2 linked regions of the Homo sapiens genome follow. The protein of the gene in region 1 interacts with the protein of each later gene in a pairwise test. Each region holds a gene or a part of one and is shown on either strand. Other genes may lie near its edges. The genes, in order: NOPCHAP1 and TBC1D23.

Evidence for each region.
Region 2: the proteins of NOPCHAP1 (region 1) and TBC1D23 interact in a two-hybrid assay, tested with the Homo sapiens proteins (one large-scale study listed by BioGRID and IntAct).

What each region holds. Positions count from the first base shown.
Region 1 is NC_000012.12:104,989,316-104,992,815, reverse strand, and holds part of NOPCHAP1 (NOP protein chaperone 1), read right to left. Parts: intron 1,105-3,500; coding exon 968-1,104; intron 1-967. UniProt on the Homo sapiens protein: Client-loading PAQosome/R2TP complex cofactor that selects NOP58 to promote box C/D small nucleolar ribonucleoprotein (snoRNP) assembly. Acts as a bridge between NOP58 and the R2TP complex via RUVBL1:RUVBL2.
Region 2 is NC_000003.12:100,281,161-100,285,194, reverse strand, and holds part of TBC1D23 (TBC1 domain family member 23), read right to left. Parts: intron 3,454-4,034; coding exon 3,348-3,453; intron 1,589-3,347; coding exon 1,384-1,588; intron 1-1,383. UniProt on the Homo sapiens protein: Putative Rab GTPase-activating protein which plays a role in vesicular trafficking. Involved in endosome-to-Golgi trafficking.

The sequences.
Region 1 (3,500 bases):
GGCATTAGAATCTCATAAAGAGCGCACAACAACCTGGATCCCTTACATGCACAGTTCATAATAGGGTTCACGCTCCTTTTGGAATCTAATGCCACTGCTGATCTGACAGGAGGCAGAACTCAGGTGGTAATGCGCTCTCACCCACCGCTCACCTCCTGCTGTGCGACCTGCTTCCTAACAGGCCACAGACCAGTACCAGTCCACAGCCTGGGGGTTGGGAACCTCTGAGATAGAGAACTGCAGGCAGGATCATATGGACCCTTTGAAGGACTTAGTTTATTTGAAACGTGATGGGAAGCCCCCAGGTCCCAAACTGTGTGAACAACGGACCCCAGGGAAGGCACAGTGAACGCAGGAAAACCTGCTAAGAAATTGCTGCAATACTCCAAAGGAGAGGCCATAATTACCTGGGCCAACAAAGGTCCAAAGGAACTGCAGAGGTTGTACAAAGTGGTTGGATTTGGGATCTATTCTGGAGGGAGAGCTGAATAGAATGGCTAATGAATTAGATATTATTAACAATTGTCTCAGCTTGGTCCAGACACAGATATTATAAACGGAATTCCACTGCAGAAACAAGATATGAGTATAAACTGAGAGAACATTTTTGCACATAGCTTATGTAATCAATTGCTCTCTTCCACACATCATTTATTTTTGCATACTCAATAAATCAGGCTATGATTACCTCTTTTGGGGCTTGGACAGAAAAAAACCCAGTTAGGACATCGAGTAAATTAATGCTTCAGAATAACAAATGTAGCATTTGACTTAGGAAAAAAAACCTTCCTGTGACATCATATGACTAAAATGACTAAATCATAAAATGACTATGTACCTATACAACATTGGAAACATGAGCTAACACCAGGAAAATGAAAACTTGAAAATAAAATGGAAAAGTTCTCTTCTTCTTAGGTGACAGGCAGACCAGTAATTTCACCATATGAAAACAAAGCATAGTTACCATTTGTATAACTTTACTATGAGGCCCATCAATGTTTTCAATATTGAAACGACCAGGTGGTGCAGCTGCCATTTCTTTTCTTAGCTTTTCATTTGCCCGTGCCATCTGTGGGAGAAATGTCTGTACCTGGTCCAATACTGTGGAAAGTAAATACAGCATATCAACATTTATGCTAGTAAATTCTGAAACCCAGGATTTCCTATAAACACTTCTGAATTGAGTATTAATAATAACAACCATAATTACATATCTTTTAGTTCCCTTCATTTAAAAACCCTCCATCCTCTTCTGAATAAAACAGTAGGACTACACAATCCAGCAATTGTTTCACAAATGTTTTATGTTTCTCATATATCCCCAGGACTGTAAACTCCTAGAAGGCTGGCATTCAACAAATAGTAACTAAATAGGGAGGCAGTGTGACTTAACAGTTAAGAGCACCAGGTTCTGAGGCTTTAGGGTACGAATAACTAGGTATGTACAGAATCCTAGTTCTACCTCTATCTGAATTACCTTGGGCCAGTTAATTAAGTAGTGGTTATTTCTGCCTACCCAACATACGTTCCCTTTCTTCTGATAATATAACCCTGGCTTTCCTTTTAAGCTTGTGTCACTCTTAGTCACTCTTGCCCCTCACCCCATACATGCCTACATCCTCCATATCCTTGGCCACTGTACCATGCTTTAGTGGCATCACAGTGACACGCTGCTCTAGTCGGGCCAATAATAGATCACTCAGGACCTTTTGTTGGAACTGTTGAGAGAGAAATCTTTCTGAGTGAATGACTGAGTTGGCTGAATATAAGGCTGAAGCTGCTGATAAACTGGCAACTCTCCACACCTGGGGGAAGAGTACGCTCTAGATTAGGCCAATACCCAGGAAAGCAGAACTAAGAGACAGAGTGGCTGACCTCTGAGGACACTGAGCACCTGGATCCAGATGCACCTGAAATCTACTGTGCCTGGAGTATTTTTCCCCCAATAAAAAGAGCCAACATAATTTCTTTTTTTGCTTAAGGCAATCTGAGCTGGATTTTAGTCATTTGCAACCAAGAATCCTAATTAATACATTTAATTCTACCTCTTGAAACCTCAGCGTACTAATCCATAAAAGAGGAGTGATAACTGTCAGTCACTGTGCCAAATACAGAGCAGTCAACAAACAAGGATATTTATTTTCTCTCTCAAAAGAGGCCCAGCACATAACCACGCATATAACAGACTCTCAAAACTTATGTAACTGCTATGGCTACATAACAGATGACTAAAATGTCCAGCGTATGGAAGAAGAAAAGAAAATAGTGGCCAAGGTCAAGTAGACGACCTCTATTTGTAAAATAAGGTGCTGGAAGGACTCCCTAAGAGCATGCACACAAATAAAGCCCGACGTAATAGTGAATGTTAGCTCTCATTCCCCTTCAGATTACAGAAAGAGAAATTACTAATACAAATAAAGGTATTTCTCTGTCCTCAGATTTAAATATATTGCTACAGATAGAAAATCTGGTACTGCTTTTGTTTCCAACTAATGAATCAAGTAGAGCAAAACAAGTACCAAAATGTGCGGCCTGAACTGTGATCCTCAGAAGCCAAATAATTCCGTGGTACTCTAGGAGAGTATATGCTGAACCCTGAGGCTAGTCCAGTCGTGGTTCTTCTAAATTAAATAATACTCAACACACAACACCATAATATTCAAAATGTCCAACATCTAATAAAAAATTAGCAAACATGCAAATAAACAGGAAAACATAATCCATAAAGAGTAGGGAAAAAAGATTCAGAAATGATGCAGACGACAGAATCAGCAATAAGAATGTTAAAACAGCTCTTAGAAATATACTTTGTATGTTCAAGGAAGAAAAGAAAAGCACAAACACAAGGAAAGAAAAAAAGATGTAAACAGTCTCAAACTTCTAGAGATGGAAACTGTATCTACCTTGAAAAAATACATTTGATAGAATTAACAGATTAGACAATATAGAAGAATAGTGAACTCAACGAAATCAGCGATAGAAGCTATCCAAATTGAAACACACAAAACATAAGACCCAAACAAACAATCAATGAGCTGTGAGACAACCTCAACTGGCAAAATTAGGTGTCATTGGAGTCCCTTCAGGAGAGGCGAGACAGGAGCAAGCAACAACAACATCCCTAAAAATTTCCCAAATTTGATAAAAATTATAAACCCATAGATCCAGTAAGTTCAACAAACCCAAGCTCAAGACTCACAAAGAAAACTACAAAGGGCACATCACCATAAAATCGGTAAAAACCAGTAATGAAGGGAATCTTAAAGGCAGCCAGAGAAGAAAAGAAACACCATATTCATGACACAAAATGACAGTAGACACTGGCGTCAGAAACAATGCCACTGAAAAGAAAGTGTAGTGATGTCTTTAAAGTACTGGAGAAAACAGAAAAAGCAAAAAACCACACTGTCAACCTAGAATTCTAAATCCATTAAAGCATCTTCCAAAAACTGAAAGCAAAATACTTTCTCAGACACACAAAGGCTGGTAAGTCTATC
Region 2 (4,034 bases), on another chromosome or scaffold:
ACTATAATTAAAACCAGTGAATTGTACACATTAAAATGGTGAATTTTATGGAATATAAATTATATCTCAATAAAGTCGTTATTTAAAAAAAGAAAAAGTGCTTCAGTTGATTCTAACAAGCAACCAGGGTAGAGAACCATACAAAACACTTATACCTCATACAGTGTGGTATCACTTAGAAAGTAGTAAAAAATAAGAGTCAGTTAACTATCAAGGTCCAGATTAGCGGTTCTCCACCTTGGCTACACGCTGAAATTAATTAGTAAGCTCTAAACAAACTGATGCCTAGGTCCCATCACCAAGAGATTTTCATTTAATTACTCATGTATGCAAATAGTCATTAGGATTTTTAAGAGCTCCCCCAATAGTTCTAATGTGCATTCAAGGTTGTACAGCCAAGCCACTAGTCTAGACTATGTCTAAAGTTTCTTTTGGTACTAAAATTCTAACTATCTGATCTATTGCACTGGGAACTACAACAATTCTTTCTGGCCTCATGAGTGCTGCCCACCACCACGACCCCCACTACAACCCCCATCACAACCACCTGCACATCTGTCTGGTCTCAAATGCCACTTACCATGGGAAAGCCATCCCTGACCTCCAAGGTAAGTTAGGTTGCCCCCATTATACATCCCCATAGCACTCTATATTTCACCTTTCTAACATTCAGCACACTTCAATTTACTTGTTCAATGCCTATATTTCTAGGACTTCCTTCCAAGCTCAATAAGGTAACACCCCAGAAATTTTACTTTTCACCTGAACACTGTAATATTTTATAGGCAAATAAATTAAAATAGGGATACCACCAAATAAACTGGAAGAATTATATATATAAACTCTAGAAATTTTTAATTTTTAAATTATTTTTTAAAAATAAATTTCTGTGCATTATACAACACGTTATAAAAAACACATACATAGTAAAATGGTTACTATTGTGGAACAAAATAATGCACCTATCATCTCATATTCCCAATTTCCCCTCTGTGGCAAAAGCAGCTATAATCTACTTATTTAGCAAAAATCTTCAATATAATAGACTATTATTAACTAGAGTCCCCACATTGCATATTAGGTCTTTCGACTTGTTCATCACACCTATTTGCTATTTTGTATCCTTTTGACCTAAATCTCCCCACTTCCTCCCCAACTCCAACCCCAGTATAACCACTGTTTCAGAAGTATACATTTTTAACTAAAGAATCTTTTAAAAAATGTTTATAACCACAAAAATAAAATAACAATTATGGATCAAACAATCCTCAAAATTATTTGAACCTTTTACTTTACCGCCAAAGTAAATCTAGCAACTTTAGCTCAAAGCAAACCAGGCCTGTATTCACTTTTAAAAACTACAATAACTGAATCATATTTTACCTGGGAATGTACTTATTCATTATGGCATAAAAGCAGTTGTATAAATCGCTGCGTGGCAGTTGAAGATGCACCAATGGTTTCAGTAGATGTATCCAGCTAAGGGATGTGCTATATTTAATGTTACGTGATTTACAATAAAAGGTAATTACAGATTCAATATCCAAAAGTAATTCTGCTGCCTTCTCCTCTGGCACTGAAAGCTGGTCTAGAAAATAAATGTTAAAAATAAAGTTACTGAGGGCCTGTCAGGGGCTGTTATTGGACATAACACTTGTTTACAAATATATAATACTATGTTAGTGCATTTAGAGAAAGACAAAGTGAAACTACATGAAAGTATATTTTCCCTTATACTTATTTTAACAATCATTGGTTCACAGATCCAAAACCCAAGGAAAACACACAGTCAAAACGCTTTATAACAGCCTTTTTTTTTTTTGAGACGGAGTTTAGCTTGTCACCCAGGCTGGAGTGCAATGGCACGGTCTTGGCTCACTGCAACCTCCACCTCCCGATTTCAAGTGATTCTTCTGCCTTAGCCTCCCGAGTAGCCAGGATTACAGGCAAGCACCACCACACCCAACTAAATTTTTGTACTTTTAGTAGAGACAGGGTTTCACCATGTTGGCCAGGCTGGTCTCGAACTCCTGACCTCAGGTGATCTGCCTGCCTCGGCCTCCCAAAGTGCTGGGATTATAGGCATGGGCCACTGTGCCTGGCCTTCTAACAGTCTTTTAACTTTAAGACAGTTTAAAGAAAATTTAAAGAAAATTAAGAATAACAGTTTCACTTAAGCATGTTTTCTTACCTAGTCTGTTGAGAGAGAAGGGAAAGAAACAGAAGACTTCTATACATTCAGTATTTACTAAACATTAGCACTTAGTAATACCTGATCTATATATATGTCAAACATAAGAATGGCCAATCTGAATTAAAGGGATAGGTAAAGATAGGCATAGCCCATATTCCTGGGAAGCAAAAGGGTTTTCTAAACAGATTATCACCTACTCCATGATGGGCAGTTGTTGCTATAATTTTGGCAAGAAGAGGGAAAGGAATTCATTCTCCACTATCAAATTCTTTCTTTTGTCCACACCAGCAATAATGTTTCTGCTGTGCTTACCACACATAGGCCTATCAAGCTAATAATTTAACTAAAATATGATGGAAAGAGAAACAAAAATACAATGCACTAGAGATGAATTTAAAAGAAGTATAAACTAAATTCATCCACATTGTGAAATGAAATAGATGTTGTGGGGTGACTGGAAACCTATTCAATCACAATTTATAGTAGTTTCTCTACAGCAGTCCACAAACTATGATTTATAGATAAACTTTTGGAACAAAGCTCCCCTTTGAGGGCTGCATACAATCATATAGATCTTTAATTATATAAAAATCAAATTTAAGACTACAACAAACCCATAAATGTACATGAAAAATCTAACATATAATGCAAAAGAAACAGTAAAAACTAGGTTATCTTTTTTGTTTCTTTGAGATAGAGTCTCACTCTGTGCCCAGGCTGGAGTGCAGTGGTGTGATCTCAGGTCACTGCAACCTTTGCCTCCTGTGTTCAAGCAGTTCTCCTGCCTCAGCCTCCCAAGTAGCTGGGACTACAGGCGCCCACCACCACACCTGGCTAATTTTTGTATTTTTTAGTAGAGACAGGGTTTTGCCATGTTGGCCAGGCTGGTCTTGAACTCTTGACCTCAAGTGATCTGTCTGCCTTGGCCTCCCAAAGTGCTGGGATTCAGGTGTGAGTCACTGCACCCAGTCAAAACTAGGCTCCCTTAAAATTAATAGACAATATTTCATAAGAATTTCCAAAGAAAAGTTCTAAAGCTATTTACAAGCCTTTTACAAATTCTGAAATTATAAGATTATTCTGAAGAGTGATTCCTCAACCCAAAAATTATTTCCAAAATTTAACTCTGCTTGAAAGTGATTATTCAGCTTACCAATAAACTGCAGGCAATCTTTGTGAATAGTGTTCTGTTCTGGCAAGTCTAAAATACCATCCCATGATGCCAAACTATCACCTTTTCCTGCAACATTCAGAGCAATCTGGAAGAAAGATTTAAAAAGTGACTAGCTTCATATGTTATTCCTCATTCTTGGAAAATATGCTGTAATAATTAAAGGCCTGAATTTAAAAATAATAACAAAGATTACAATTAAGGTATCCATACTCCACCAAATGTTGAGTATTTAGTCATGTCACAACCAGCAGAATTATTTTAAGTCCTCCTACATTAGATATTTCTTCATGTTGATTTAGTGAATACAATAAATTACCCAAAATATTTATATATTTAGATATGTAAATTTACACAATCAATTTTTTTAATGTAAAAACAACAGAATGTACTGGCAAAGAAAAAGTACATCTGTGCCATGTACATTTTAAAATTATACAAAAGAATACTTAATAAATTGAGCAAATGTTTTCACTGTTTTGTAAGGTTTTTTTTAAAATGTAAAATAAACTGTATTGATTTAAAGAATCTTAAGTGACATATCCAAATGCAACAGGTAGACCTACTAGAATTCAAATTTAAACAAATCACCCATAAAAACACATGTATGAGACAACTGAAGAAATTATTTTATGATATTAAGGAATTACCAGTCTTTTTTATTTTTTG